6 separate regions of the Homo sapiens genome follow, and all the other regions are linked to region 1. The links come from fine-mapping of genetic effects on gene expression. A gene starts in region 1. Each other region holds a variant in brackets. All regions are shown on one strand. Distances are between the middles of the regions.

Region 1 (5,361 bases):
ATCTACTACACGTGGCATGAACTGATCATCATGTAGGCCAAAGTAGTCTGACTTCTTTCTTTATAGGACTTTTTTGTTGTTGTTTTTTAAGTATTCTCGGGAGTTAGGAGGCTTAGGGCTGTGTCTTTGAAATGTAGATAGTGTTCTTCTTCATTTGAACTTGCAGATCAACACCCATCCTAGCCTATGTAGGATATTTAGGAAGGAGTACTGAGTGCATTCTCCTCATCAGGGCAGGAAAGCAGCCTTGTGGAAAAAAGAAAATCATGAGGGCAAATTCATGTTTTGTTTCTCTTTGTGACATTATGTCAAATGTACTCTTTTTGTCTCACAGTGAGATGATCATGTTCTCAGCCCTATTAAGCCCAATGCCCCTTTTTTATTATAAATATTTTGAAATGCCCCCTTTTCCGTCCCAAAATGGAATCATAGAAATTACAACCTACCTACACGTATAATCTAGAAAATCAATGTGAGCCCTAACAATATCATAGAGAAATAAGAATAATTTATAACAAAATAATTTAAATATTTGAGCACAGCCACACCAGAAGACAAAATGAAACAGACACTTGCACCCATGCCTAGAATCACTACGAAGGTGACATTCTAACAGACTGTTGTGTCAGTGACTTAAATGTTTGTTACACTGGTTGATGACAGCAATGTAAATTTCTCAAATGGTACACATTTTAGAATGTTAATTTTCAAACAAATTTTCTCAATTTACCCTGGAAAATATAGTTTATATTAAAATTTGTGCAAAATATACTTGCTGTTTACAAGTGAAAGTGAGTCAGGTTCTAGGCCCTGATAGTTGCTCTTTACCTACCCTGGTGTCTGAGGAACACTCCAGAAGTGTATGGAATGCAGGACAGGTTTTGATTGTTCTCGCCAGGGCATTGCTCGCCATCCAGCATCCCTGGCTGCCATCACTCAGTGCCACTGTGACAACCCAAAGTGTCCCCACAGATTCCTCCAACTCTACTTAGGGAGTGCTGTCTCCTGTGGAGAATCATTGCTCTGAGATTCCACCAAAAGATATAAATCAGACCAAAGGAAAAGCCAAAGTTTTTAAGCATGGTATCTAGACAAGGCAACTCACATGACAATAAGACACAAAACTTTCTCACTCAAGATAGCAGGTTTGGTTTGGTTTGATTTTTAACTCAAGTTTGATAGTGTGACCAACATCATGTTAGGCCTTGTGAGAGACAGAAGTTGGGAAGAAACACCCCCCACCCCCCTCCACACACACACGGACACACACGGTCCCTGCCCTCAAGGACTTCCAGTCTAGTAAGTAAGTGGCAACAGCTACAGTACAATCCAGGTCAGCGAAAAATGGAGCCTAAAACAGAGCAAAGAAAGACGCAGGTACGTATAAGAAGTGGGGCCCCTGGGCCTCACAGTGGGCACTTTACCCCGGGTTGGATTTCATGGAGGCCCCTCCGGCCGTGTTGTCCGCAGGGTACGATTTTATGAAGGCTCTGAGTTGGTGGCTGACTCTGGCGTCACCATAGACACCACAATGCGTGGAGGCCGACTTGGCGTTTTCTGCTTCTCTCAAGAAAACATCATCTGGTCCAACCTCAAGTATCGCTGCAATGGTAATGTGCATTCTCGTTACTGTTCAACATTGTTACTAGAATTAGTCAAACACTGCCACCTTATTTTTATACCGCACTTCCCCCCCAAAAGCCCAACGCTCATACCACATAGTCATTAAAACCTGATAGTCCCTGTGTACCAGAAGTAAAAAGCAGATCACATTTATCCTATTTTATCCATGTGGAAATTAAGACCCATAGAATTTAACTGCATGGTTTAGGGTTTGGGGTTCAGTGAGAAATCCAGTCAGATTTAATTTACAGGAAGCCTTTATTTTCATGTGGTTAAAACATAATCACAGATGCAAAATCCATTCTGCCTGCTGATTTTCTGCACGGCCGGGAAGGAGCACTCCTGGGCTTTAAGCCAACGGTTTGCAAAGCAGCCTGCAGGAGAAAATGGCGGCGAGGGCCTGCGGGGCGTCCTGGGCGGGCTAACAGCGCCCCCTACAGGACGCCTGAGCCGCGGGCGGGGGTCCGGGGTCCGGGGTGGAAGGAGCCTCGCTAACCTCCCTGTGCCCATTCCTATTGCAGACACCATCCCTGAGGACTTCCAAGAGTTTCAAACCCAGAATTTCGACCGCTTCGATAATTAAACCAAGGAAGCAATCTGTAACTGCTTTTCGGAACACTAAAACCATATATATTTTAACTTCAATTTTCTTTAGCTTTTACCAACCCAAATATATCAAAACGTTTTATGTGAATGTGGCAATAAAGGAGAAGAGATCATTTTTAAAAACCGTGTTGCTCAGACATTGCTCTCACGTGGCTCAGGCTTTGAGGTGCCCGTTCTCGGAGGGATCCCTGTTAACTTGCAGGGTGGTAGTTTCTTCTCAGACCCGGTGGCCGATAAGATGAGCCTATGCGTGAATCACAAGGCCCAGGCCAGAGGTCTCAGCTGGGGTCCCCCCAGTTTGCTCCATACAAAACGCCTAACCGTTCCATGCTCACCTTGGCAGCCTCCTTATTTCGGGTAAGGGGTCTCAGAAACACGTGTTTGGGGTGGCACCTTCCCTAGGGAGGCGTTTTTCTGACCTAGTCCTGGGACAGATTTGCCCAATTCTTTCTGATGCTGTCATCCCATCCCACACCTTCCACAGACTTCTATTCTGGCCCCTTCAACGTAATTCTTAAGCTTATTTATATATTTGGCTCCCCCTAGTGGACTGTAAGCATATTGACAATAAAGGATCATGTCATTACAATCAATATCCCCACAGTACCTGGAATGTAGTAAATAGCCAGTAAATGTTTACTGAATTAATAAACGAAGAATGAATGAATGAATGCCTCTTAAAGGACAGTAGAGTGTACATGATCATAAAAGTCCTCCTCAACTCAAAAAGTCACAACATATCCTCTATTTGTGGTACCAGTAGCTGGATGTACAGCACAGAAACTTGCCTAATTTGTACACTAGCCTTTCTTGTATTTCAATTGTAAATCAAGATCCAAGCAAATTTTTATAAATTCTCTAGAAATTTTGTTTCAAAGAATATTGCTGTGCGGTTATATATTTTCTTATTCCAGAATTCCTAGAGATATATTAAATCATGTATGAAGAAAAAAACACCACAGTTTTATCATGACTTTAACAGTGAGAAAATACAATGGTGCATGCATGAGATCTGGAGGATTTCTGGACATCCTCCTCTCATGTACAGCCTGGAGATGTGTGTGGCCTTGTAATCCAGGACATCTGATCTCCTACATCAAAAACTCCAATGGGGCCAGGTGTGGTGGCACTTGCCTGTGGTCCCAAGCACTTTGGGAGGCCAAGGCAGGCAGATCACTTGAGGCCAGGAGTTCAAGACCAGCCTGGCCAACGTGGCGAAACCCATCTCTACTAAAAATACAAAAATTAGCCAGGTGTGGTGCCACTTGCCTATAGTCCCAGCTATTTGGGAGGTTGAAGTGGGAGAATCACTTGAGCTGGGGAGGCAGAGGCTGCAGTGAGCAGAGATTGCACCACTGTACTCCAGCCTGGGCAATGAGAGTGAGGCTGGTGAAAGGAGGCAGCAACCCACACCATGCCCACCCCTGGGGCAGCCTCCCTGTTGTCGGCTGTGCAAGCCCAAGAACGCAGTATGTCCACAGGAAACAGACTCTCTTGGTTAAATCTTTTGTGTCTATAACTATTTTAGAAACCATGGGCCCACAGGAGATCCAGAACATAATTCCATCCCTTAGGGAGCTTATTACATTTTTGGGAAGACAAAACTTGTTATTTATGCAAAACAAGAAACAAAGACGCATGTAGAACCAGCAGTGTGCTGAAGCCAACTCCTACCAGCTCATAAGAGCCAACTATTCAAGTTTTAGGAATATTGTGAGCCAGTTAAACGGTTGGTAGTTTGAAATTGGCCATGGTGGGAGTATTTACACAGAAACTGGCAAACACTACAAATCAGGGCTCCAGAGAACTGGTTGTTAAATATTTATCAGCACACAAGTGATTATTCTACCTTGTCCTATTCCTAGTTGGCCCTCCTTATATTTTTGAAGCTGATGTAGAAAACTTGAGGCTTTCAGAAAATTTCTTGCATAAGAAATGAAGTAAGAAAAGTGAAAATGGGTGGGGTGCTATGGCTCACACCTGTAATCCTAGCACTTTGGGAGGCCTAGGTGGGAGGATCGCTTGAGGTCAGGAGTTTGGGACCAGTCTGGCCAACATGGTAAAACCCCATCTCTACTAAAAATACAAAAATTAGGCCAGGTGCAGTGGCTCCTGCCTATACTCCCAGCTCCTCAGGTGGCTGAAGCACAAGAATCTCTTGAACCCGGGAGGCGGAGGTTGCAGTGAGCTGAGATCGTGCCACTGCACTCCAGCCTGGGCGACAGAGCAAGACGTGTCTCCAAAAACAAAAACAAAAAAAAAAAAAAGTGAAAATCAGGAAGCACTTGAGAGAAGCTAGCCAGTTGCAGACTGACGGGATGAGCTAGCAGGTGTGGTATGCTCTCCCCCAGGTAACTCCCTGGGCTTCTTGGATACTTGTTATACTCAACCTTAGCACAATGACTCAAATTCCTATTACAGTTCCATTAGGTTAGTAAGAGCCTCATTTGAATCTTACACCTCTAGGACTGAGTGGCCATCAGTCTCTCACCAACTAGTATGAATTCATTCCAATGCCCATTCACCTCCTGACTTTTCATGGAGATCGAGAAGACTGAGGAGCTGGGCATGGTGGTGTGCACCTGTGGTCCTGGCTACCTGGGAGGCTGAATGGGGAGGATCACTTGAGCCCAGGAGTTCAAGTCCAGCATGGGCAACATAGCAAGATCCTGTCTCACTTTTTTTTTTTTTTTTTAAGTACTGGGGGAATGGGAGGCGTGGCTGGGAAAGAAAAGAGGCATTGTCACTGTGGGGGAATGGGAGGCGTGGCTGGGAAAGAAAAGAGGCATTGTCACTGTAGGGAAAAGATCATGGCTGAGTAGAATCCCACGGGAAGTGTGGGAGATCTCTGGGGGCAGGATGAGGGCACTGGGGGCAGCCAGAGGAGGCCTGGGGGCATGGGAGCAGGTGCACAAAGGGATGTGCAGCCCTTTTTGCCTACACTCAAGAAAAAGGAAAAAAAAACTCTTCCTTCTCCCCATCCAGGTTATTAGTCCTAGGCTCCAGAAGTATTATGGTGATTATCCTTAGGTTAATTTTGGAGACAGGCTATAGAGTTAAAGAGAATGAGGAAGATATAGAATCCAGCCACCTGCTATTGAAACATCTGTAGGCATTTTTTATTGCCTAGGC
Region 2 (5,361 bases), 35 kb after region 1:
GGATGAGGGGTGTGAGGCAGGGCAGAAAGCCTCCACGTTGCTGCAGCAATGCAAAAATAGGCACCTTGCCGTAGGCCTCTCTGGCACTCCATCTTGTCTCTCTTCCCTGGAGAAAAGGCAAGCTGTATTCAATCATCTTTTCAATGCTAAAACCAGGCTTTCCTGTCGGAGTTGGGGCCAGAGATGTTTCCATCCCCTCTTGCAAAAAGGGTATTCTTAAGAGGCCTTAAGTCTTCAGCATTGATAGTTTCTGGGAACAAAATAGAAATCAAAATCTCACCTTGTGTTCCCTTCCTCTTCCTGGACAGAGAATGGGACAGGCCCAGGCCATCCAGATCACTATGAACCTTATCAGAAACTTCAGTCCATTTTCTCCGTTCCCTTCCCTGGGACTTGCATGCTATAATCTCCATACCCCTCCTTCCCCACTCTCCAGGCTTAGTGGGTGAGGCAGAGAGTGAGAGCCAGGCTTACCTGCCTTTTCTCCTCAGTGGGAAGAAGCTCAGTAACTGAGCTCAGACGCTAGTGGCATACCTACCAAGAGGATGACATAAATGCCTCCTGTGGCCCTGAGATAGGCAGAGCTCTGCTGGCAGCCCAACCATATGTTCACTCGTTCATTAACAAACATCCACAGAGGCAGGCTGCTCTGGCCTGGAGGGGGATGTCCTACACTAGACGACTCAGGTTCATAGAGCCAGGCCTCATTCCACCCCCACTGGCTCAAGTGACTTTCTGGTGACCAGAAACTGGAGAGCTCTTTTTTTTTTTTTTAGACGGGGTCTTGCTCTCTCGCCCAGGCTGGAGTATACTGACACAATCTCGGCTCACTGCAACCTCTGACTCCCAGGTTCAACTGATTCTCCTGCCTCAGCCTCCCAAGTAGCTGGGATTACAGGCGAGTGCCACCAGGCCCATCTAATTTTTTGTGTTTTTTAGTAGAGACGGGGTTTCGCCATGTTGGCCAGGCTGGTCTCAAACTCCCGATCTCAGGCGATCCGCCCGCCTCAGCCTCCCAAAGTGCTGGGATTACAGGTGTGAGCCACCATGCCTGGCCCAGAGCTCTTAACTACAATGACTATATGCAGAAGAACAAACTAACACGGAAGATGGCTAGGAACTGCGTAAGCCAAGACTCTGCAGTAAGACACACTTGAGTTCTGGTCCTCACTCTGCCGTTTACTCACAGTCCAACTGCAGATGGGACCTCACCTCTCTGAGCCTCAGTTTCCTCATTTGTAAAATAGGCAAATATTGGCACCTACCTCATAGAATTAGTGCGAGGCTTAACTGAGGTGATCTAGGCAAAGCACTTAGCTTGGTACCTAGCACATATTAAGTGCTCAATAATAGGTGATGGTGATGATGTAAGTTGGACACAAGAGAAAAGGACACATACTAACTGATAATCACACAGAGCCACTGACTGGATTTGGTATCTTTCTCTGACATTCAGCTTTTCTTACCATCTGTCAGCATGCCACACTCCTTCAGCCTTGAATTATATGCTGCCTTGTGGTTTTGCTCTTATAAAACAAATAGAATGTACTAGTCTTCCTGTGGCTACTGAAAAAAAAAAAAAAAAAGACCACAAACCAGTGATTTACAACACAGAAAGTTACTCTCTCACAGTTCTGAAGACCAGAAGTCTGAAAGTACTATGTTGTCAGGGCTGTGCTCCCTCCAAAGGATCTAGGGGGTGATCTATTACTTACTTCTTCCAGCTTTGGGTGGCTGTCAGCATGCCTTGGCTTGTAGCTGCACCACTCCAATTTCTACCTAGTCTTCTTATCATCTCATCTGTGTCTGTTTTCTCCTCAGTGTGTCTCTTATAAAAACACTTGTCATGCCAGACATGGTGGCTCATGCCTGTAATCCCAGCATGTTGGGAGGCCGAGGTGGGCAGATCACTTGAGGTCAGGGGTTTGAGACCAGCCTGGTCAACATGGTGAAACCCCATCTCTACTAAAAATACAAAAATTAGCCAGGCGTGGTGGCGGGCTCCTGTAATTGCAGCTACTCAGGAGGTGGAGGCAAGAGAATTGCTTGAAACTGGGAGGCGGAGGTTGCAATGAACTGAGATCACACCATTGCACTCCAGCCTGGGTGACAGAGCAAGACTCCACCTCAAAAAAAAAATAATAATAATAACTTGGCTAATCCAGGGTGATCTCCTCAAATCAAGATCCCTAATTTCATTACGTCTGCAAAGTTAACATTTACAGTTCTGGAAATTAGGATGTAGACGTCTTTTTGGGAACCATCTATCTTAGACTGTTCAGGCAACTATAACAAAATACCAGATGCTGGGTAGCTTACAAACAACAAACATTTATTTCTCACAGTTCTGGAGGCTTGGAAGTCCAAGATCAAGGCACTGGAAGCTGTAGTGTCTGGTGAGGTCTTTTAACTATGTCCTCATTGCGGAAGGGGCCAGGGATCTCTCTTCCTTTTATAAGGCTTCTAGTCTCTTTTTTTTCTTTCTTTCTTTTGAGACAGGGTCTCACTCTGTCCCCCAGGATGGAGTACAGTGGCACAATTTTGGCTAGCTGAAACCTCTGCCTCCCAGGCTCAAGTGATCCTCCCACCTCAGCCTCCTGAGTAGCTGGGACTACAGGCGCATGCCACCATGTCCAGCTA[A/ATT]TTTTTTTTTTTTTTTTTTTTTGTAGAGATGGGGTTTTGCCATGTTGACAAGGCTGCCAGGCTGGTCTCGCACTCCTGGCCTCAAGCAATCCACCCACCTCGGCCTCCCAAAGTGTTGGCATTATAGGTATGAGCCACTGCACCCAGCTTCATTCATGAAGGTTCTATCTTCATGAACTAATCATCTCCCAAATACCATCACCCTGGGGGCTGGGATTTCAGCATATAAATTTTGGGGAGATATAAATATTCAGTCCATTACACCAACATTTGGTCCACTACTTGGAGTACCTAAGAACATGGACTTTAGAAGTAGACTGACCTGGATTCCAATACCAGCCCCACCATCACTCACTAGTTGGATGACCTTGATTCAGTTATTTAATATCTTTGAACCTCAGCTTCTGGAAAAGGGCCAATAATGCCAATAATGCTATGTCCCGGGGTTGTTTGAAAGAATTAAATAAGCTAATATGTTAAAAGTACTGGATAATTGGTAGCTCTCATTACTAGTGGTAGGTTTACCCCACTAGTCTACAAGCTCTTAAGAGCTGGAGTTATCTCTGCTTCCTTCACAAGTCTAGCACAAGTCTGCAAACAGTCTATCCTTAGTGAAGGTGGGGTGACAAACTGGCTGAACCAGTGGCCTAGACAGCCAATATCACCAATTATGTAAGATTCCACAGGGATCTAAAGGAGCGAATTAGAGGCACCCAATAGTGACCCCAATCTAAGCAGTGCAGGGATCAGCTGGGTGGGTTTGTCAGCAGAGAACAGGGCCACCAGGGCAGGCACATAGAACTAACTGCACTCACTGCACTGTTGTTAACTATTCTTTGAATCCCTCCACATGACGCCATTCCTACAGATGGAAGGTCAGCTACACTGGAGAAGTTCCAGAAATTCATAAATAGATTATGATCCCAAATCCCAGAGAGGAGGACTTTTCCAGATGGCAACTGGGAATTTACCTTAATGATTTCCCCATCCCAGAAGGGAAAGCTGTTCTGGTATATTACAAACATTACAGCACATCTGAATAACCCAGAGAGCTTGTTTAAATGCACATTTTTGGGCCTCTACCAGGCTGGTTAAACAAAGCTTCAACAGAGTGGGGATAGGAACCAACCATTTTAAATAACCCCCTTTGGTAATTCTGGTTCAACCATAGCAATCAAATTATAGTCCAACCTAGGTAGGGGCTTGCTACCTAGGAGTCAATATGTAATACTGGAAAGAGTAAGAGTTTGGAAACTAAACAGAAATAGGGTCCAATCCTGGGTCGTCCACATAATAGCTGTGGGACCTTGGGCAAGTTACTTCATTTTTTTGGATCTCAACTTCCTCTTCTATAAAGGGGGGGCTATACCTGTCAGGGTAGTGGTGTTAATTCAATGATAATTATGTAAAGTGCCTGCTCATAGTAGATTGAAGCAGAGACTGCTACTATTCACCAATCCATTTCTTCTTCTTGTTCATACACAACTAGACTATATTTCCCAGCACCCTTTGCAGCCAGGCACGGCCACACTAGTTCTCACCAAGGGGATATGGTTCTAAGTTATAGTACCTATTCTTGGCAAAGGCTTAAGGAACAGATATGCCTCCTCCAGGTTTTCTTTTGTCTTACATCACTTGGATGCAGGTGACAGGTTCTAGGGAACTGGGGATCTACAACATGGAAGGAGCCTGTATGCCTGAGTTACTAGGTAGGGGAAAGCTATCCATCAACTAGAATGCCTGCCTTGGACTCTTCTGCAAACGAGAAATAAGCTCATATACCATATTAGGTTATAATATAGTTGCTTTAAAGAAATACCCATGGCCAGGCGTGGGGGCTTACACCTCCCAGCACTTTGGGAGGCTGAGGCAGGAGGATCACTTGAGGCCAGGAGTTTGAGACCAGCCTGGCCAACATGGTGAAACCCCATCTCTACTGAAAATACAAAAAATTAGCCAGGTGTGGGGGCAGGCGCCTGTAATCCCAGCTATTCGGGTGGCTGAGGCACAAGAATCGCTTGAACCCAGGAGGCAGAGGTTGCGTGAGCCGAGTTTCAGGCTGCACTCCAGCCTGGGGGACAGAGTGAGACTCTGTCTCAAAAAAAGAAAAGAAATACCTGCATTGCTATAAAGAAATACCTGAGACTTTAATTTATAAAGAAAGGAGTTTTGGAGGCTTTTTCTTTTTTTTGAGACAGAATTTCGCTCTTGTTGTCCAGGCTGGAGTGCAATGGCGCGATCTTGACTCACTGCAACCTCCGCCTCCCAGGTTCCAGTGATTCTCCTGCCTCAGCCTCCTGAGTAGCTGGGACTATAGGCATGTGCCACCACACCTGGCTAATTTTATATTTTTAGTAGAGATGGGGTTTCTCCATGTTGGTCAGGCTGGTCCCGAACTCCCAACCTCAGGTGATCCGCCCACTTTGGCCTCCCAAAGTACTGGGATTACAGGCATGAGCCAACGCACCCAGCCAAGAAAGGAGTTTGTTTGTTTGTCTGTTTTTCCAAGAAAGGAGTTTTAACTGGCTCATGATTCTACAGGCTGCACAAGCAAGGTGCTGGCATCTGCTCAGTTTCTGGGGTGGCCTAAGGGAGCTTTTACTTAAAGCCAGAGCAAGCATCTCACATGGCAGAGTAGAATCAAGAGTGAGAGTTGGTGTGGTGGTGAGGAATCTCAGGATGACCTCCCTGAGATTGCTGTCCCCTAGTTATTCACAAAAA
Region 3 (5,361 bases), 210 kb before region 1:
CTCCCGCATAGAAAGGTTATGTGGGAAACACTCTGGTTTTTCTTCTCCTGCTGTGAAATCAATTAAAAACAGGATGGATATAAAATGGTTTTATAACCTCCTCCACCTCTGGCTTCCTTTCTTCTTGGGGATGAGCCAGGCAGAGTGGGGAGAGACAGGAGTCTCACGGTCTGCAAATTCTGCAGCAGTTTAAATGATAGTGACCTATTGCTTCAGCTCTCCTCAGGGGACCTGGGGCTGGAGGAGAAAATGTCTCCTTGGAAAGTGGCCAAAGGAAGGAGAGCCCCATAGAGGGAGTGAGGGTAGGTAGGGCCCAACCCTTCCAAGTTCTGGGTCAGTCTTAGGTTCAGAACGCATCTAACCTGGGGAAATGAGACAGCCAGTTTTGGAAGAGAGTTTATTTCCCACAGAACAATTCAAATGGCTTGTTAGCCTCGCGCACACTTGCTTGATATGACCCAACATGAATAATTTTCATTCCTGTTTTGATTTACAAAAAATGATAGTACATAACTTTTTTTGAGTACTACTCTGTGCCAGGAACATACTCAGATACCTTTCTTACGTTAACTGTAATTCTTATAACACTACTGAAAGTTAAGTACTATTTTCTCCTGTTAAAAATAAGGAAAATGAGGCTCAATGAGGCTAAGTAAACTTCTCAAGATCAGAGAGCTAGTAAGCGGCAAAACCAGCATCCAAACACAAGTTTGTTAAAATAATAATAGTTCTGACTTATTGAACTCTTCTGTGGGCTAGATATTTGACATACATTATCTGAAATCCTTATCACAACCCTGTGAGGGATTTTGCTGTAGCTCCATTTGACAGATGAAAAAGTCATATTTAAGGAAATAGTGCAAAGCCCTAGAACTGACTTGGTGAAGTCTGGCCTTGAACCTGGGTCTCTCTGGATTCTCTGATGCCTGTATTTATTCCAAGTGTGCCACGCAACTTCGGGGACCCAGAAAGGTGCTCTTGCCCTAGGTGCTTCCAGTGGGTGCTCTGGGACCAGCGAGGGGCCCCCACTGGTTGTCCGTGGTGATCTGAGGTTGAACTGAGCTGTACACAGAGCATGAGAGTGGCTTCTGCCAATACACATTGTTCTCCGCAGCATGTAATGTTTTCTAGGGCCTTGGCCAACTTGGCTGAGGCATTGTAGACATCTTGAGGGACTGGGTTCCGAGCATCTTAAACGGATCGACAGATTTTATCAGGAAGTACTGCTTCTTACCACAGAGCTGCCCACATTTTTCCCAGTGAAGAGTATTAGCTGGAACTAGGGTTCCAGCTATTTTTACACCCGATGTAAAATCATGTGAATGAGCTTCCATGGCTTACACATCCCTCCTTACTCGTCAGACAGTTCTGATCTGCTTTAGGCAACCCCATCTTCTCTTTATTCCTGTGTTATTTTCCAAGGCACAGCCACCCACAAAACATCTTGGGGAATCTTGATGTCCCAATCCACATCTTCGCTTCACTTACTTGCTTGCACCCTGAAATCTGTAGTCCACAAGCAACAGCCACAGCAAGACAATCCGAGATTGGGCTGGCATTGAGAAACGCCCAAAACATGTTTACATCTTGCATGTCTTTTAGGGCTCTTGTTAACCCAAGGAGAAAGAGCAGTATGAACACCGGTTTTAGAGAATAAATCTAAGACCCTGTTAGTGCCCGAAGCAGGATTAGAAAGTAGATTTTCACCGGATTCCATTGTCCCCAATTCTCTTGCTCCAGACCCTATTCTAAGGCATAAAGTTAGGGAAATAGCCACAGAGGCTCAGGCACATTGCCCTGATTTGAAATGTTTCCCTCAAGGGGTCCTTTCAGTTGTTCTGAAAACTCAGCCTGAAAATTGTAAATGCCCCATAAAGGCAAAGCTTTTACCTGGAACAATCCATTGCAGAAGAAGCATATTCCCTAAAGCCAAGGTTGTTGCACAATTTGAGCTGTCTCACAAGCACCAGCAACTAGTCATTCATTTATTCAAGAAATACATACTGAGTGGCTTCTAGGGGCCAAGTACTGCCGAGTACTGTGGACTCAGCCTAGCTCTCCTGGAGTGCAGAGTGCATCGGAGGAGTCAGTTGAACAGGAACTTTTAGTGAAGTGTGCGCTCTGGGAGTAGACAGCAGGGGGGCCTGGGCAACCCCAAGGTCAGGGTTGGCTTCTCTAAGGAAGTGACATTTAAACTAAGACCTGGAAGACAGTAGAAGCTGGCCAGGCAAGGATGACATGGAGTCCTCCAGTGTGGCAGCCATGAGTATGAGCCTCGCAGACCTCCAAGATGGAGGAACTTCATTGACCAGGAGCCCAGCTGCTGCACTCTGCAATCCATCACCATGCCTGTATGGAGGCCATGCTTCCCATAGGCTACACCAAGGCAATGGCTGAGGTTGGTGGGAGTGCCAGGGCAGCCTGTTCCTTGGAAGCCAGGACAACTCTGATGGCCACCTTTGCTCAAGAACACCCCCATAACGCTGCTGAGCTTCTTTACATTGCTGGGTGGTCTACAGTGTTTCTCTCCATCCTTCCTCCCATCTCTCCTTCATGTGGAGTCAGGCTTGCACCGTGTTCCTTATCCAACCTCTCTCCTCTCCTGCCTGCCATGGGCATGTGTGACATCGCTCAGGGAGGATGAGAAGCGGGAGGTGAGCTGAGCCAAGAGGCCAGGAAAGAAAAAAGGGAAAGGGCCCTGGGTAGAGCCGGGCAAGTTCTATTGTCCCAGCAGGAGGAGGAAAAGTCAGACAGGAGGAGTCAAAAGTTGATTCCAGGGGTTGTTTGAGATTAGAATCCTGTCCCTTCTTTTTAAAATTCCAGAATGGCTCTGGCTAAAAGCTTCCTGTTTCAGGACAAAGTCCCAAAGGAACTTTTTTGTAAAGCCATCTTGTAGATCACCTATAAAAGCTTTGTCCTTCCCTAACATTTATATCCTTACAGGTATCAGAAGAAGGTGGCTCTCCAGAGTGTCACCTTGGCAGGGCCAATCCCAGTCCTGACTGGGGAGAAGCCCAGGTGCCAGGAGTGTTGTTACTGCGGCAATGGACGCTGCAGTCTGCCGGCACCCGATGCCGCTCACCAGCTCCATCCTTCTAATCAGCAGCCGAGGCTCAGATTCTTCCCAGCTGCATGGGGAGACTGTCCTGCTCGGGCTGCTGTGAGTCACTTGGCAGATCTAGTTCTCATTGCACATTAATGCATTGGGGATTTTGTTTTATTTTTTTAAAAATAAAAGAATAACATTAACATCAAGGGAGGTCATCA[G/A]AGAGAAAAAGAGTTACAAAAAGGCAGCATGCGGCCTGTGCGTGTGAGGTGGAAGGTGGAGCGGGGGTGGGTTTTGGCCTTTAGGTGGGCATGGCTGCCCCAGCCAGGGCTTCAGTGGTGCCTTTCACATCCATTCTTTATCTATAGGATGCCTGGGGATTAGGTAGGAGTGCCAAAACACTGCAATTATAAAAAGAGGGAAAAATGACCCTGTTGGTGATCATTTAAGGAAGTATTTTAGGACAACTGAAAGGAAATAGATCTTTACACAGCCTGTAGCCTGTAAGTGGAACCCATTACCCCCATTAGGTGTTCTGCATGGAAGTAAAAAATGGGTCCGAGAATAGGTCAGATAAATTCACAGATATTAGATGTCATGGTCACTAGGATCAGCCTATGAAGAGCAAGTTACCATGTTCCCATGAAAATGTTACTGCTGCCCCCAGAGGACCTGTGCTCCAGCCACATCAAGCTCCTAAATATTTCTGGAACAGTGAGTCTTCTTTCTTGAGTCTGTGTCTTTGCCATGCCGTTGCTTCTAGGTTCCCTTGCCACTTTTTCCCAAGAGTGGTAAACTACCACTTATTCTTCAAGATCCAGTTCAAAGCCTCCTCTAGAAAGCCTTTCTTGAATCCTCTAGGGCAGGGGTGGTCACTCCTCACTCTGTGCCCCCAAAGCCTGCTGTACCAAGCACACACACAAAGCTACCACTGCACTATAATTGTTTGTCTGCTCAACTGGACTATAAAATTCTCCAGGGTAGAGATTGTGCCTGATTCATGTAGCTTAGCAGAGAGGCTGGCCTGCAGCCTCTGTGCAGGAAATACATGTGAATAAAGGAATGAATGTTGAGTTACATCAACCAATGGTCTCACCACTTAAAGGACATATTCTTAATGACATTCTCAGAAGCTTTGCTTCTAATATCACTTGGACAATACTCTTCTGCCAGGACATATTCCTGTTTATCTCAGCTAATATATATGCTAGTCTCCAAAGCAGCCATCTGTGTAGTTGAAGTGAAGTAGCCAAGAGAATTGAGATTTTAGTGTCTTTAACTTAACTGTGTCTCTCAGACAAATGAGCCAGTTCCCCAGAAATCTGGTCTAGAAACATTGCCAATGCACATTCCAGTGACTTTGAGATGTTAGAAAAACAGACATATCACCTTTCAGGCTGAAATCACTGGGAAGTGCATTTTAAAGCTGGGTTTCCTTCCAGATCCTTAGGTTGTGAATGACACACAGTCTGTGGAAAATTTATGAGATCACCAAGAAGCCGAGGTCTGAAGTGTTCAAGAAGTGTTTAACCACAGATCAAACACAACATTTGCGTGTTTCTGAAAAACAACAACAACAACAAAAAACCACCAAACAGCAAACAAAGGTCTAATGATCAAAATGGTGTCCAACTCAAACCAATATGAGGGGTCTGCTCAGGCCCATATGTAGAGATTCTGAAGATGATGAATTGTAGGAAGAGAAAGGAGAGTAAGACCCTGGCAAGTATGGGAAAATCCAAGAATAATGAGGGGTGCTGCTCGGTCAGTTAAATAACTATCCCTAGAGAAAAATTCCTGGAAGCCGAGAACCTTGGGTTTCAACCCCAATTTACATCTTTTTAGAAAATCATTTGAACTTAACTTTCAAATGATTGACTGCAAAAATTTGTTAGTCAATTTAAAAATATCTATACATGCTTTTATGTGTGTGTGTGTGTGTATGTGTGTGTGTGTGTGTGTGTATTTTTAGTAGAGACGGGATTTCACCACGTTGGCCAGGCTGGTCTTGAACTCCTGGCCTTAAGTGATCCACCCGCCTCGGCCTCCCAAAGTGCTGGGATTACAGGCGTGAGCCACTGTGCCCAACCTACACGTGCTATTAACTTAAAGGCAAATGTAAAGTGTTTTGATGGGCCGCAATGCAGCTTTTTATTCAGAAAATAGCTTTGGGGCAGCTAGTATGTCCAGGGCCCCTGACTGGGCCCTAGAGATGCAGCAGGGAGTAGGACTGCGGTCGCCTCTGCCCTCATGGGACCTAGAGTCTGGTAAGAAGAACAGGCCCAGAATAAGTGATTACATTAATAGCCAGTGGC
Region 4 (5,361 bases), 42 kb after region 1:
ACTTCTGACTACAGAACTGTCCACTAATAAATTTATGTTGTTAAATTTGTGGTGATTTGTCACAGCAGCAATAAAAAAACTAATACATTCTCTTAATCTGTTTTGTCATCAATTTTTCTTTGAGACGGAGTCTCACTCTCTTTCCCAGCCTGGAGTGCAGTGGTGTGATCATAGCCCATTGTAACCTCAAAATCGTGGGCTCAAGCAGTTCTCCCACCTCAATCTCTCGAGTAGCTAGGACTACAGGCACATGCCACCATACTTGGCTGATTTTTTTAAAAAAATTATTTTTTATGTAGAGATGGGGTCTCACTATGTTGCCCAGGCTGGTCTCAAACTCCTGGCTTGAAGAGATCCTTCTATCTCAGCTGGGAGGATCCCAGGATCCCAAAGCGCTGGGATTACAGGCGTGAGCCTCCATGCCTAGCTTCCTCACTTATTTTTTATTAATAAAAAGTGACATGGGGAGATGGTGGAAGTTAGAGTGATGATATCTGAGTATGCTCTTAGCTTTACATTTGCTCAGTTCCTTGTGCTGAGTTGTCTGTTAGGGAGCTTCCTGCCCTTATAGTGAGAATGTGACATAGTCTGGGCATCAGCTGCAGCTCTTTGAACAGAGATGATCCAGCTCCCCATCTCACCAGCCCCCAAATCCAAAACTTAAAAGCGGAGCTGCTGTCAAGGAAAACAAAGTTAAGCAAAATGACTTCAAAGCCCAATGTGCTCACCTTCACTCTCCCAGTGGGTCCTTGCACCTGAGAACGTGCAGGGTCCATCAGTATTGACCTCCCCTTTCCACCAGCCCTGGAAGTTATGGAAGGGGAAGGTAGCTTATTCTGATATCGTGTCCTGTAATAATGCTTCCTGGCCTGGCACATATATCCTTGTTTCTGTGCCTCTTGTTCTAAAACATCCTCCCTTTCCGAAAGCTGAAACTGTTCCTGCACACATTATGCACTTAACCAGGTAAATTTCAGAAGATTTTAAAAAGTTTCCCAGTGAAGGAAGGAGAGAGAGGTATTGTCCTGAGATACTGAATATGCGGATGGCCAGACTAGATATCAAAATAGAACCCTGACCCACAATCTGTGGCAACTAGCCTGGGAAGCCAACATATTATCTGCAGTAACCAATCCAGGAAGCAAAGCAATAACCCCCTTAGCAATGGACCCCAAATGGCCAGGACTCGATTAATAAACTGACAGCTCCCATAATTTTTGCCCCTACCTCCAACTTTGGACTAACCAGAGAAAGCCAAATGGGCACCCCCAACCAATCACATAGCATGCCGCACTTCTAGCTGGCCCACTTGCAGCTTCCCCGTGCCAACAGTCTCAGGGCACGCCCAAAGTGTTCCCTTTTTTCTACCACAAGGCTTTTCCACACCTCTGCCTGCCTTTAAGTGTCTGCCAAACACAAGTGATGGTGGCTGACTACCTTGCAACCTCTCTATAGTAGGCTTTGTTTGTTCTTATTTGGGTGGTCTTCATTTATTTCCACAGTCCTTGTTTTTCAGGGAGATTTAGGGCTTAAATACAAGGAAATTTCATGTAAGGATGCAGGAGTGTTTCATGGAACCTCAAGCTCAGGAAAGCTGCACAGCCATGGGAAGACCCTAGAGCCGGAGTCTGGAAAAGCAATCCGAGCTTGGATCTTAGAAATCTTGTCTTCTTGCAAACCGGGTTCTCTGGTCCAAATGGCCAAAAACATGACCATGGACAGGGCCTGTGCTTATCTCGTCACCTGCAGAGAGGCAACTCTCTGTACGTCCTGATTCCAAGTTCCTGGAGAAGGACACAGACTGAACCACCTTGGGTCAGGCACCATCCTTGACCAATTTACTAACAGTGCCCAACTCCCACCCAGGGTGGGGAGTAGTTGCAGGTAGTCTTGTTTATGAACATGGCAATCAGAAGCCCATCCCTGTCACTGTGTGGAGGGGAGGGGAGAGAAGAGGGATGGTTCCAACCAAAAAAGGTAGGGGGATGGACATCCCAATAGGGGTCCACTCCATTCCTGATGGCACAGTGAGACAGTTGTCATGTGTCACGTGCTAGACTCTTGACTCTGTGCCTCCCAGTACCTGCTACTGACCAACATGGTCTAGTGAGCGATTTTTCTTGTGAAGGCATCCATCCATTCATTCATTCATATAGCAAACAATTGTACATCACAACCTTATGCTAGGTGCTAGGTATACAATGATAAAACAAACACAAAAACCAAAACCACAATCTCTACCCTCAATGTGAGGAGATACCACCACATAAACGAACAATTACAATACTGTGAAACATGTTATGCTCAATCTATGGCCTAAATCAGATGAGAGGCTGGGCAGAGGATCAGGCTGCCAAGAAATGCTTCCTAGAGGGCATGCTGCCCGAAATGAACCTTGAAAATCAGGGAGCTTGATAGAAATAGGGAAAGAGAGAGTGTTTCAGGCAGAAGCAAGGTTCACTGTCAAGGAAAGGCATTTCAGGAAACCAAAAGTAGTATCTGTTTGACATGAGCTATATTGGAGTGAGAGTACTGGGAGGTAGGCTAGAAAGGGGAACAGAGACTAGATATGAAGGAACTTGAAAGCCGTAAGTATATGAAGAAGGCAATGGGCTTTCTACACAGGAATGACCTTGA[A/T]GACTTGATTTGCATTATTGAAAGCTCACCATGGCTGGAATGGATTGGGGACGTCCGATGATGGGAAGACTCAGCTGGGCAGTTGCTGCATTAACTGTGGAGTTATAATGGTGACCTACGAGAGCAGCTTTGGATACGGAGAAGAGCAAACTGGTTTAAGAAACGTCATCACCTGGGTCAAGAAAAGGACATGCAGTGGGTTGGGTAGGGAGGAAAATAGATGTAAATAAAGTTATTAGTTGAAAAAGAAAAGCAAGATCGAGAGAGAAATTAATTCTATTGCCATCTATTCATGAGAATCACAAGGCTGAATCAAAAGCCTTCCTGCAAACCTAGACTCACGCTGGTTCAGTTCAGAGACTCTATCAGAAAGATGAGGAGCTCATGAGTCATCCATCAATGTGATCTTGTGATTTTTCTTGTGACCACAAGACAAAGGAAGAGAAGAGTACTTTGGAGTCATTATGATGAAAATTCAGTTGAATACACTGGAAAGTCAAAACGAGAGGAGAAGGAGGAACCGAAAATCTGATTCAGTCTTGACCACCAAGTAGAATTGGGACAGAAACAATTAAGTAGGCACAGATCCAATTTGGATTATAAAAAGCTGGTTCATCAGGAAGGCCACTATAAAACCAGAAGCAAACGAAGAGTCAATTAAGTACAAAAGTTTTTACTATGACTATGCAGTGAGGTCCAAACTGTACTAAATTTGAAGTTCCCTGCCAAAGAGAAATGTAAGCTTCCCTGGTGGTATAAGTCAGAATTTCATGACATCAGCCAGATAACCACAAAAGAATATATCTTTTAGTGCTAGATGCTTCTAAGCCTTTCTCCACCCAACTAACCAACATTCACTTACTGATTTACTTATTTCTTTAACAAACACACTCCATTTCATAGCCACATTCTTTCAAAGCTGACAGGTTGAGATATATCTAAAACACAAAATCTCCAACATACATTTTCTTCTTCAATGTTGTGAGATGTATTTTTCTAAAACACTGTTCTGCACATACTACCATTCCAATATTAAAAACAAGTTAGTTATCCACTGCCTTTTTTGTACAAATGAAATTCATAAATTTTAATTTGGTTACAAAAAAATTTTTCATCAAAATTTTTGCTTATTTGTTTATATAAAAATGGAGACAGGGTCTCACTATGTTGCCCAGGCTGGCCTCAAACTCCTAAGCTCAAGTGATCTTCCCACCTTGACCTCCCAAAGTGATAGGATTACAGGCATGCGATACCAAGCCTGGTATAATTTAAATTTTTAATTAAAAATTGTTAATTTGTCTACAAAATAAATATATACTCATCATCAAAAACTTTCAAAGAAGAAGATTAAAATCACCATAATTCCAACACCCAGACACAATCACAATCACTTCTGTAAGTTAGGATATACTGACAGCCTATGTGACAGGGAAAAAACTAAGTTGTAAGAATTTTTTAAAAACCTCCTATTCCCCATTACAGTAGATTTTATTACTCAAAATATTTGCTGCCCCACCCTGGGGAAGATAATACTTCCCCACTTCATTGCATCAGCCTTAGAGATGTGGTTTGAGGTGTCCCTTCTTGTGGGAGGATTACATATTCTCATCTCCTTGACCTCAAGAGTGGCCATGAGACTTGCTTTGACCAATGCAATGATAACAGAAGTGATGTGTGCCACTTCGAAGCAGAAGCTCTGATTCATCATATGGTTCTACTATGTTCGTTCTCTCTTCCATGAAACCAGCAATATCCCAAATACAGACTGCTGGTCCCAGGATGGAAAACTTAGAGCAAAGCTACCGGTAGCCCACAATGTGAGCAAGAACTGAACTTTAGTCATTGTAAGCCACTGAGGGTTTTGGAGTTGCTTGTTACCACAGCATAACTTAGCCGACACTGACTGATACCACCTACCTCCAAAATGTCATCTGAGTTTTCTTTATGTCTGAAGAGAGCCTTTATGCATTGAAATAAATACTCCCTTTAATTTCAACTTATATTTTATATATTTAAATTATATGTTTTAAAACTTAATTTTGAAGACTTTAAACTTGTGTTAATTTATAAATCAGTTTTGTTAATATTTTATTATCTACTTTTATTTGGTTTTGATGAATGCCCAACTGGCTTGTAAATTTGATAAGGTACTCCCAAATATTTATCAAACTTTCAGAATTAAGTTTTAGACATTTCAAACTACAATCTAATTTTAATTGATTTCTCAAGGAAAAAAACAACAAAGCAGACTCACATTTCTATAGGCAAAATCTTAATAAACACTGAAAACATACTGAACTTAAAAAGTTTAACCTTACAAATTTAATAAATTATAAATTTAAAGATTTAACAATTTAAACATTTGAACATTATTTCAAACTTAGTTATCAACATCTTATAAATTTTTACTAATATTTTGAGTCTAATGAATCAGTCTCTTTACTTACCTTAAAAAGCAGAAAAATATACACAAAATACTATAATGGTTACAAAACTTATTTCTAGATAAAATTTATGACTAGACATAACTTAGCTTGTCTTCCAAGGGTCTTTGAAAGTATGTTTGTTTTCTGGCAATAAGAAGATATTTCCAGACTCATCTTGATATTTCCTGCCGTAAAACATGCAATGAATTTTTCTCCAGGGAGCCCAGTGCCCTCAGGGTCTTCTGGCTGGAATGCAGATTAGATGGATTGGCAAAGCAGCTGCTGGGGCCACAAGGGG
Region 5 (5,361 bases), 28 kb after region 1:
TTGAAGTCCTAACCCCCAGCAACTCAGAATCTGACTGAATTTGGAGGATAGGGTTAAGACGTCAGTCAGTTAAAAAGAGGTTGTGAGGGTAGGTCTTAATCCAATAAGGGTGTCTCTATAAGAAGAGGAAAATTGGCACAGACACACACAGAGAGAAGACCACATGAACACACAAGGAGAAGATGGCATCTGCAAGCCAAGGAGACAGGCCTCAGAAACCAACCCTGCCAACACCTTGATCCCTGACTTCCAGCCTCCAGGACTGCAAGACAATAAATGTCTGTTTAAGCCACTGGTCCTGCAGTAGTTTGTTATGGCAGCCCTAGCAAACTAGTATAAAGTTCTATCCATATGCCCCTGGGATGTGTTTCTAAGCATTCATTTTTAAAATGTAACATTTCTTAAAAATATACTGTAACATTTTAACTTGTTTTGGCATTTCTGCTTTTTTTTTTTTTCATGGGACAGTCTTGCTCGCTCGCCCAGGCTGGAGTGCGGTGGCACAATCTTGGCTCTCTGCCTCCGGGGTTCAAGCGATTCTCCTGCCTAAGCCTCCTGAGTAGTGGGGATTACAGGCGTGCACCACCAGGCCCGGCTAATTTATATATATATATATATTTTTAGCAGAGACAGGTTTTTACCATGTTGGCCAGGCTGGTCTTGAACTCCTGCCCTCAAGTGATCCACCTGCCTTGGCCTCCCAAAGTACTGGGATTACAGGCATGAGCCACTGGGCCTGGCTGGCATTTCTGCATTTTTAATACCTTGGGAACAACCACCACCCCTCAAAATGACAGTGGCTCATCTTTGTCAATTATACCTTAATAAAGCTGGAGGAAAATTAATAAAATGGACTACAAAAGAAGAAGAAGAAGAAGAAGAAGAAAAGAAAAGAAAGTAGCCCAAGTTCTCTGTACCTCCCAGATGCCCCAGTGAAGGGCCTCAGCTGTGATGAGAAAACCCAGCAGCCCAATTCCTGGCAACTCTCCTGGGATCTGGAATGATGGTGTGCCTGGGCACAGCCTTCCTATCTGGCCCGAGAGCCAGCTGGCACCATTGGAGTGAGGAGAGGGCTCTGAGCTTTCCCAGTAGGCTGGCAACCTCCCAGGCTCCCTCCCCCAGCCCCTATAAAACCATCTGGAAAATGAAAATAATACCTTCTGCTTCCTACCAAGCTCCAGGGACCCTGTGAGGAACAGGGAGATACTATCCCCATACCCCACACATTCCTGGAGGAGGTTGCCCTGGAATAAGCTATTGCCCCGCCTCTTTCACCCCAAGTGGCAGAAACGAGGGCCACTCAGTGCTCTGTCCAGCTGCTCTTGCTTCCCCTCAGGAGCCACTTCTGCTTCCATCCCACCTGATTGGAGTGGGCTTCCCACAGGCCCCCGCTCCGCAGCTCCTCAGTGCTCTCCTCCTCCTCCCTGCTCCCCCGAGCCCAGCCCAGTCTGAGGTCCATCCCCCTGTGAGGGGAGCTGAGCAGTGCTGCAAACTCAGTGCTCCTGAGTACCCTGGGGATTTGCTGAACTGCACATTCTCATTCTGTAAACCGGAGCTGAGCCTCTGCACGTCTAACCTGCTCCCTGGCAATGCTGCTGTTACTGAGCAGAGTGGAAAAGTGCTAGACAATACATTGGGGGGAAATTTCAGTCTCAAATGCATTGGAGCAGAAACCAGAACTCCCTGTCAAGCTGCTCTGTGGGTTTTTGAAGCGAAGTGTGTTGCTCTTCACTGGCTGCTCTGAGCTGCTCAGAGCGGGGGACAGAAGCTGGGTCTACCCGAGCATCTGTCCAGCCACATCCCCTCACTCTTCAGGGTGGCACTGGGCACACAGCCCCAGAGTCAAGGTGGCATTTAGCTGGGCCTTCAGTCCGGCACCAGCAAGTGCTCTTTAACTTGGGGTCCTTGGAGTCCATAGGTGGGCACAGCTCAATTTGGGGATGTACCTGAGAAAAATGCTTCCCAGATGGGCTTCTCTGCCCCATCCCTCTCTCCACCGGGCCTGGCCAGACCCCAGGGTGAATTGTTCTAATTCCTTGCACTTTTTCCTGGCAGGGTCTCCAGGCTCATGAAATCTGCCTCTTGCCAAAGGCAGAGGATCCACTGGCAGCAGGGAGCACTGGCTGCAGTCAGGCAGGTGCAATCATTTTTTAATGACATCTTTTCCCCCTTATCAAAATTGTGCAATTCACTTTAGAATATTTAGAAAATATTGGAAAATGTAAAGAAGGAAGTAATCCTGCAATCCTACAACTCAGAAATGATGTTTCAGCACTTTGGAAAATATCCTTCCAATCTTTCACATGCACAGGTGTGGTCTGTATACGGCACTGGAGATCCCCAGCACCAAAAAGTTAACACTGTAGGAAAACTATTTATCCATGTCAGTTATTCTTTGAAAGTATGATGTAGGGGAAAAAAAAGGGGGGATCAGACTGTTACTGTGTTGTAACCGAGCGAGTTATACAGAAACGCCACACTCTGAGACGAATTGAGGAGTCCTTTATTAGCCAGCGACCGAGAGACGGCTAGTGCTCAAAATTCTCTCGGCCCTGAAGAAGGGGCTAGATTTTGTTTTATACTTTGGTTTAGAGAGGGGAGGGGGAGCCTAGCTGTAGCAGTCTTACAGAAGTAAAACAGGCAAAAGAAGTTAAAAAGACAAATGGTTACAGGAAAGCAAACAGTTCCAGGTGCAGGGGCTTTAAATCCATCACAAGGTGATAGACGCTGGGCTTTGGGTGCTATCAACCAGACAAAAACACAGGGGCTTAGGGTAATATCAACTGGACAAATTCCTGGGAACTGCGGACATAGCTTGCCACAGCATGTTATCAGTTAATTGCATTCTTTGATGTGCTGGGAGTCAGCTTGCACAAGTTAATTCCTTGAGGAAGGGGGTGGGTAAGGAGCCCTTGATGTCTTGCAAATGAAGGAGCCAAATGGAG[TC/T]CGTTCAGGTTTCTCAGCTAAGAGAGAGTCAATCAGGTTAATACAAGTTAGGGTATCACAAGTGTGTCTATTTAGAAAAGGAAGACTTAAGAAACTCCATTTTGATCTGTACCCTGAACAATGGTTTTGCCTTGAGATGCTGTTAATCTGTAACTTTTCTCCAGCCTTGTGCTCACAGAAACATGTGTTGTATGGAATTAAGGTTTAAGGGATCTAGGGCTGTGCAGGATGTGCCTTGTTAACAATATGTTTACAGGCAGTATGCTTGGTAAAAGTCATCGCCATTCTCCATTCTCGATTAACCAGGGGCACGATGCACTGCGGAAAGCCGCAGGGACCTCTGCCCAGGAAAACCGGGTATTGTCCAAAGTTCCTCCCCACTGAGACAGCCTGAGATATGTCCTCATGGGATGGGAAAGACCTGACCGTCCCCCAGCCCGACACCCGTGAAGGGTCTGTGCTGAGGAGAATTAGTAAAAGAGGAAGGCCTCTGTCTCATACCGAACGGAATGTCTCGGTATAAAACCCGATTGTAGAAAACCACACTGGCAGGAGGCGAGATATGCTGGCGGCAATTATTCTTTATTCTGTTATTCTTTACTACACTGAGATGTTTGGGTGGAGAGAAGCATAAATCTGGCCTACGTGCACATCCAGGCATAGTACCTTCCCTTGAACTTATTTGTGACACACATTCCTTTGCTCACGTTTTCTTGCTGACCTTCTCCCCACTATCACCCTGTTCTCCTGCCGCTTCCTCTTGCTGAGATAGTGAAAATAGTAATCAATAAATACTGAGGGAACTCAGAGACCGGTGCTGGTGCAGGTCCTCCGTATGCTGAGCGCCAGTCTGCTGGGCCCACTGTTCTTTCTCTATACTTTGTCTCTGTGTCTTACTTCTTTTCTCAGTCTCTCGTCCCACCTGACGAGAAATACCCACAGGTGTGGAGGGGCAAACCACCCCTTCATGTGATGTTTAGGCCGGGTGCAATAGCCCGCGCCTGTAATCCCAGCACTTTGGGAGGCCGAGGTAGGAGGTTCACTTGAACCCAGGAGTTCAAGACCAGCCTGGGCAACATAATGAGACCTCATTTCTAAAAAATAAATAAATAAATAAAAATTGTTTTAATTAGCTGGGCATGGTGGTGCACACCTGTAGTCACAGGTGCTCGAGAGGCTGAGGTGGGAGAATCAGTTCAGCCCAGGAGTTCAAGGCTGCAGTGAGCTGTGATCGCACCACTGCACTCCAGCCTGGACAATAAAGTGAGACCGTGTCTCAAAAATAGTATGATTTTTTTAATAGCTGCATAATAGTCTCCCCTATGGATATTTTTATTGTTTACTTAATGCTTGCCCTATTTGGGGCCATTGAAGTTGTTTAATTCTTTTTCCAATATAAATAATTTTATTCTGGCCATGTTTTTATTGAAATCTCTAACCCTATAATCTCTTTTTTTCCTTAGAATAGGTTTCCAGGATTGGGATATTGGAACAAAAGGTTAAATATTCTTAAAGTTCCTGATAGATGTTGTTGAATTGTTTCCAGAAAGCTTCAACAAATTCATCCCCTCTAGCCATAGTGCCTGTTTCAAGAAATGATCAGCATTGTCCATTATCTTCTTTTATTTTTTCCCAATTTGGTAGGTAAAACTAGTATCATTTCTAGTCTGCATTCTGCTTGACTCTCGTGTGGCTGAACATTTTTTTCTGAGTGGCATAGCCATTCATGTTTCTTCTGTGACGGGTCTGGACACATCCTCAGTGCTCTCATTTTCAGGAGAGCAAGGATGGGGAACGAGGGGATATGCATTGTATTAGTTTGTTTTCATGCTGCTGATAAAGACATACCAGAGACTGGGAAGAAAAAGAGGTTTAATTGGACTTACAGTTCCACATGGCTGGGGAGGCCTCAGAATCATGGCAGGAGGTGAAAGGCACTTCTTACATGGCAGCAGCAAGAGAAAAAGAGGGAGAAGCAAAAGCAGAAAACCCTGATAAACCCATCAGCTCTCATGAGACTTATTCACTATCACAAGAATAGCACGAGAAAGACCGGCCCCCATGATTCAATTACCTCACCCTGGCCCCCTCCCACAACATGTGGGAATTCTGGGAGATACAATTCAAGTTGAGATTTGGGTGGGGACACAGCCAAACTATATCATGCATCACCACCTGATGGCACCCACCCATAACCTCTGCCATGCTGTGTGCCCCCCCACCCATGCCTGTGGGCGAGGCTCCCCAGGCCTGGTGCCTTTGCTGCCAGACTCTGGGTACTTCCATTCACACTCCCATCTCTGGGTGTCCTCAAGATAACCCGATGTTCCCAGGATCCTTCCCTCAATTAACAATGACCTGCCCTAGCCCCATTTCTTCAGCACCGTCTCCATGCTAAGTTACAAGGAGTGGGCC
Region 6 (5,361 bases), 910 kb before region 1:
AGGAATGTGAACACCTTGACATAGAATAAATACCTTTAACTTACTAAAAGACAATAGGGGTGATTAATTAGATTGCTTAATCAGATTAATTCAGTCTTCATGCAAGAAACATCTTCAAACTGCTTTAGATCGAAAGGACATCTTCCATCATCTTAACCGGTTTGTTTGCCAACATAGGATTTAATTTTCTGTGTAGGCCTCTGCATTTTACCTATCCTTCTCTCCATGCATACTATCTGCCTCCCAAGCAGACAGCTAAATTTGATTTTTCCTAAATATTCAAAAAAATATCTTTCAGGCTGGACATAGTGGCTCATGCCTGTAATCCCAGCACTTTGGGAGGCCAAAGCGAGTGAATTGCTTGAGGTCAGGAGTTCGAGACCAGCCTAGGCAACACAGCAAGAGCCCATCTCTACGAAAAAAATAAAAAAAGAATTAGCTGGGTGTGGTGATGTGCACCTGCGGTCCCAGCTACACAGGAAGCTGAGGCAGAGGATTTCTTGAGCCAAAGAGGTCAAGGTTGCAGTGAGCCATGTTCACGTCACTGCACTCCAGCCTAGGTGACAAAGCGAAACCCTGTTTCCCCTGCACCACCCGCCACTTGCAAAACACACACACACACACACACACACACACACACACACACCAAAAACTTTCATGTCTTTTCAGTTAACTTTTAAACAAGCCCAGCAGGATTGAATTATGTGGTATAATTTTAGGGACATTTCTGCCCAGGTTCATGAGTTTATCCACCTGCTCTAAAACCTGAAAGACCTTGATCAGGAATCAAAGTGATATATGCTGTACTTGGAGACAAAGCTTAAAAGACACATCCTCAAAGGAAAGCAAAAACATTTATTTAAATTCATTATAAAATATTATCTTCCCAGGTGCTCTATTCAATTTCTTCATCACCATCCACACAGAGAGGACTCACAAATTTATATCTCCAGTGCAAGGCTCTGTGTCCTCAGGTTTCAAACTCGATTATACAACTCACAACTTGCCTTGTCCTCCTGGGATTCTCAAAGCCATCCAAACTTAACATGAGTTCATGCTCTCCCCACTCCCCACACTCACTGATACTCCTAACTTGGTTTCTATGGTCCCGTATCCCAGTGAGCTAGTCATCTGGTTGAACAAGCCTGAAAGGCAGAAGTCATCCATGACAGCTCTCTCTCTCCTCCATGCCCACACCATCCCTCAATTCTGTCAGAACTCTCCAGTGTCTTCCATCTTCTCCATATCATTCAGCCAAACTTTGTCTAATTTAATAACCTCCTAACCAGTCTATCTAGAGCCCTTCTAACCCCAGCCACACCTATATAACATATTAGAGCAAAAGCTCATGTTTTTCAAAGGTTAGTCAAGTGAAGCAGTGGGAGTGGAGAAGGAACAAAGAAATCTGTAACTGGTTGTGATCAATTAGTTGTAAACACCACTGCACTCAGACCAGCTGCAAAATTTGTTGTTGTTGTTGTTGTTTTGAGATGGAGTTTCACTCTTGTTGCCCAGGCTGGAGTGCAATGGCGCAGTCTTGGCTCATTGCAACTTCCAATTCCCGGGTTCAAGCAGTCCTCCTGTGTCAGCCTCCCAAGTAGCTGGAAGTATAGGTGCCCGCCACCATGCCTGGCTAATTTTTGTATTTTTAATAGAGACAGGGTTTCACCATGTTGGCCAGGCTGGTCTCGAACTCCTGACCTCAGGTGATCTCCCTGCCTCGGCCTCCCAGAGTGCTGGGATTACAGGCGTGGGCCACCGCACCCGGCCTGCAAAATTTTTAATACATATTATACTCCTTGACCTCCACTATCACAGAAACTTTGCTATATACTGTTTTCTTGACTTAAAACACTATTCCCTCCTTAATAACTCCAACTCCTCCACATTTCTGCTCAAGCATCAGTTTCCCAGAGAAGCTTTTATTGGCTTTTATCACCAGGTCAAATTCCTATCTCCTAGTACTTTGTACAGTCCTTCATAGTGCTCATCAAGTTGGAATCTGACACATATATATGTGTTATTATATCATCTCCCTCACTAGTCTAAGCCATAAAGTCATGGATCATGTGCAGTTTTTTTTCTCCCCACTGCATCCAAACACCTAGCATAGTGTCTGGTACATAGAAGTGGTCAAAAAATATTTACTGAGTAAATAAATGCATAAGTTAAAATATAAATAACCAACATAAAATCCTTTTCCAAGAATAAGTTTTTATGACAGATATCAACCAGCAGAAAAATAAAACATTTTCTAGAATGAAAGAACATATGAAAAATGCCTGGCAGATAATAGGTTCACAATTTTGTAAAAATTCATCTGCTTTATGATTTTCATAGAGCCAATATCTGCAACCTGCCTTTCTATGTATTTATGGAGAGCAGGACCAAAGCAACGTAATTTGCTGCTAGGATGCCAGTACTAAAGTGTTTCTTTTTGTCTGTTCCTGCTTCCTGAACATATTTTGCTTTGTGTAAATTTACTATGACCACACAAAACATATCAGACAAAATGAAAGACAGAGTTGCAAGAATTTCCAACTTGTTAGTTGGGTAGGATGCCTTGGAAAACAAAGTACAGGGCTTCCCACTATATATAACCAACTGTCTAGTCTTAAGGTGAAGATAAATAATATGTTCTAGGAGCTGGGCATGATGGCTCATATTTGTGATCCTAGGACTTTGGGAGGCCAAGGCAGGAGGATCGCTTTAGCCCAGGAGTTTGAGACCAGCCTGGGCAACATAGAGAGACTCAGTCTCTTAAAAAAAAAAAAAAGAATATCTTCTAGAAAAGGAATTATCTTTAAATACTGTACAGATAATTCAGGATTTCAAGTTTAGTTT[C/T]CACAGTGTGTGAGTGAGACACTCAAAGGGATAGAAGATGAAATGTTTAATCTGCGTGAGTTCGCTTAAGGACACATCCCAATAAGGAAAAGCTGTGGGGCGTATGATTGTTTTATAAAACAGTGCGAAGAGAATTGTTTGGCACTGTTTGCACATGACAGGCTCACAATTCATTTCTTTAAATATGAAGCCCCAAATCAACCCATCTAAAATTATGTTTCCTACCAAGATTGCTTAGTTACTACACATAGGAATGTGCATAGGCCTGGAGGCAGCACTCTCAGCTCTTCTGAGATAATCAGTTGCTCTTTTATTTACAAGAATCCTGGTCAAGACACTCCATTCCTGTCCCATTTCTCTGCCACTAATTGACTCTGTGGCTGTAACAGGGTCTCAGTTCTTCATGTGTAAATCAAGGAGATTGGATTTTTTTAAGTCCTTAAAGTTCCCTCCAGCTCCCAGTCCTTTGATTCAGGCCTGAATTCTAGCCAGTAGAGTATCAAGCCACCTACACGGTTTGTCGAGTTGCACGAGCATTTAATGAAGAGTTTCCCTACTCTTTGGAAGAGTCTGTTCATAGGAGAAATTTATGCCACCTTAATAAAATGAGCAGAGGAGAAACCTGTTATTTCCTCATAGGTGCATAAGCAGCCCCGAAATGGGAGCTGACTAGAGGGGTGGGCTGGGAGACAGGAGTCTGCAGGGTCAGGCTGCCATGAGGTTGATAGGGAAGTTTTGCCCCACTGGCCAGATTTCTCTTCACTATTGCTGCATGCAGGCTGCTGAGCTCACTGGTGTCACATTCCTCAGCCTTGATCCTCAGGACTCAACCAAAGAATATCAAGATTTCCACAGCACACTTGTCTTTTTTCTTTTAATGGAATGAATGATGCCATACATTTGTCATGTTTATAGAGCAGCCTTCCCTGCATTAAAACACACACACACACACACACACACACACACACACACACACACACATAGATATAGATATAGATATATCCCACTGGAGGCTTTTTATAAAAAAAACAAAACAAAAAACCCACAGATATATCTATTTTAGATAGATAGATAGATAGATAGATAGATAGATAGATAGATATAGATATATAGATATATTCTTCCAAGTAACACTCTGGCAGGATTATCCCACAACAGAAAGTGTCAAAGGCAAAGAGAAATGCCTATACAAGAAGAACTTTTTAAAATAGAAAGCATAGATTCAAACTGCCTCAATCACTGTGGGCTTCCTTCCCTGGCAGAGGAGAGACACTTCCTTCATTCCTTTCCAAATAAAGCACCTTGGCTCTATTCAAGGCTTTACTATGGGCAGGAAGACCAATGGCAACTTCTTGATCTATAGGAAAGTTTTATTTGTTCGACTGACCTACCAGAAAAATATTCTAAATTGAATTACTTTGCCATGTTTTATAGATGATACATAAATTGCCTTGCCCAGGATACTTTTTAAAAAAAAGTTACACAAAACAGAGCATGTCAAAATAATTTTCAAATATAATACCTATAAGATGGCTAAAATGTAGCAAAGTATAATTTGCCTAAGATTGTAATATTATAAATTGAGACATGTACTTGGCTATAATCTACATTTGTCATTTCTTGGACAAACTTTTGGTTAACTCTCTTCTAAATTACGTTTGCCTATGTGTCTTGAATTAAAAAATGGCTTTAATCGTAAATAAACATGAGAAAAAAGTATTTTTCTATTTCGAAAGCCCACAAGGCCGGGCGTGGTGGCTCACATCTGTAATCCCAGCACTTTGGGAAGCCGAGGCGGGTGGTTCACGAGGTCAGGAGTTCAAGACCAGTCTGGCCTATATAGTGAAATCCCGTCTCTACTAAAAATACAAAAAATTAGTCGGGCATGGTGGTGGGTGCCTATAATCCCAGCTACTTAGGATGCTGAGGCAGGAGAATCGCTTGAACCCAGGAGACAGAGGTTGCAGTGAGCGGAGATGACGCCACTGCACTCCAGCCTGGGTGACAGTGCAAGACTCTGTCTCAAAAAAAAAAAAGAAAGCCCACAATATGAACTCATTCTTTCAGTATCCAGTCCTACAACCTCACCTGGAGTATTTTTAGCCTAAGCCAATCTTTCAATATTTACTTTGTGTATGTAAATAACAATGTTCCTGTAAGTAGTGCTACTTACATTCTAAAAAAGCCTTGATTCTAATTGCCCTAGTGTTGTCATTCACGTCTTGAGGGTTCCAGCTCAAGTTTCCTGCGTGACTGGAGGCACCGCCCTCATTCTATTTGATTCATTATGAATAACACAAGGATAATGATGCCTGTAATTACTGACAGTTTGCCACCTTCTTTGAAGTTCCCAAAAGCAAAATGCTCCAAATGTATGCTCATAATTGTTTATTAGTTGGTCAGTTTACAAAGCCAATTTTTGTTTCCTCAAAATTAAATGGCATTTGTTCATTTTTAAAATTTGAGTGACAATGTTTCTAAGTTAAACCCAGGAGGCTGGGCTCAGTGGCTCATGCC

Alleles and levels. Alleles are on the strand shown, and positions count from the first base shown. SD is a standard deviation of normalised expression in the study named. Not every link is listed here.
For the expression in prefrontal cortex of the gene that starts at base 2,730 in region 1, C is the high allele of the variant in region 6 and T is the other (large effect, 1.0 SD a copy in BrainSeq).

Evidence for each region. PIP is the estimated chance that this variant, and not a neighbour inherited with it, causes the effect.
Region 2: its variant is the best candidate, but not a certain one, in a credible set for the expression of THBS4-AS1 in whole blood (INTERVAL, PIP 0.64).
Region 3: its variant is the best candidate, but not a certain one, in a credible set for the expression of THBS4-AS1 in visceral fat (GTEx, PIP 0.54).
Region 4: its variant is the best candidate, but not a certain one, in a credible set for the expression of THBS4-AS1 in monocytes (BLUEPRINT, PIP 0.51).
Region 5: its variant is the best candidate, but not a certain one, in a credible set for the expression of THBS4-AS1 in whole blood (TOPMed, PIP 0.50).
Region 6: its variant is the best candidate, but not a certain one, in a credible set for the expression of THBS4-AS1 in prefrontal cortex (BrainSeq, PIP 0.77).

The regions. Positions count from the first base shown.
Region 1 is chr5:80,080,936-80,086,296 of GRCh38, forward strand. THBS4-AS1 (THBS4 antisense RNA 1) reads right to left here and starts at 2,730. Exons shown (of 8, transcript NR_109930.1): 1 at 2,565-2,730; 2 at 1,425-1,602. It overlaps THBS4 (thrombospondin 4), which reads left to right. Exons shown (of 22, transcript NM_003248.6): 21 at 1,471-1,610; 22 at 2,145-2,352. The coding sequence ends at 2,206. RefSeq lists silencers at 2,039-2,128, 3,244-3,458 and an enhancer at 4,891-5,185.
Region 2 is chr5:80,116,074-80,121,434 of GRCh38, forward strand. It overlaps a transcript of SERINC5 not described here. Among named protein-coding and RNA genes, the nearest start is that of THBS4-AS1, 35 kb to the left of the region's middle. The variant A/ATT (reference allele first, on the strand shown) is at 2,641.
Region 3 is chr5:79,872,297-79,877,657 of GRCh38, forward strand. All of the region lies in intron 1 of LOC105379048 (a long non-coding RNA gene), which reads left to right. Among named protein-coding and RNA genes, the nearest start is that of LINC01455, 62 kb to the right of the region's middle. The variant G/A (reference allele first, on the strand shown) is at 3,268.
Region 4 is chr5:80,122,993-80,128,353 of GRCh38, forward strand. It overlaps a transcript of SERINC5 not described here. Among named protein-coding and RNA genes, the nearest start is that of THBS4-AS1, 42 kb to the left of the region's middle. The variant A/T (reference allele first, on the strand shown) is at 2,638.
Region 5 is chr5:80,108,740-80,114,100 of GRCh38, forward strand. It overlaps a transcript of SERINC5 not described here. Among named protein-coding and RNA genes, the nearest start is that of THBS4-AS1, 28 kb to the left of the region's middle. The variant TC/T (reference allele first, on the strand shown) is at 2,946.
Region 6 is chr5:79,168,878-79,174,238 of GRCh38, forward strand. It overlaps the pseudogene RNY3P1. Among named protein-coding and RNA genes, the nearest start is that of BHMT, 60 kb to the left of the region's middle. The variant C/T (reference allele first, on the strand shown) is at 2,845.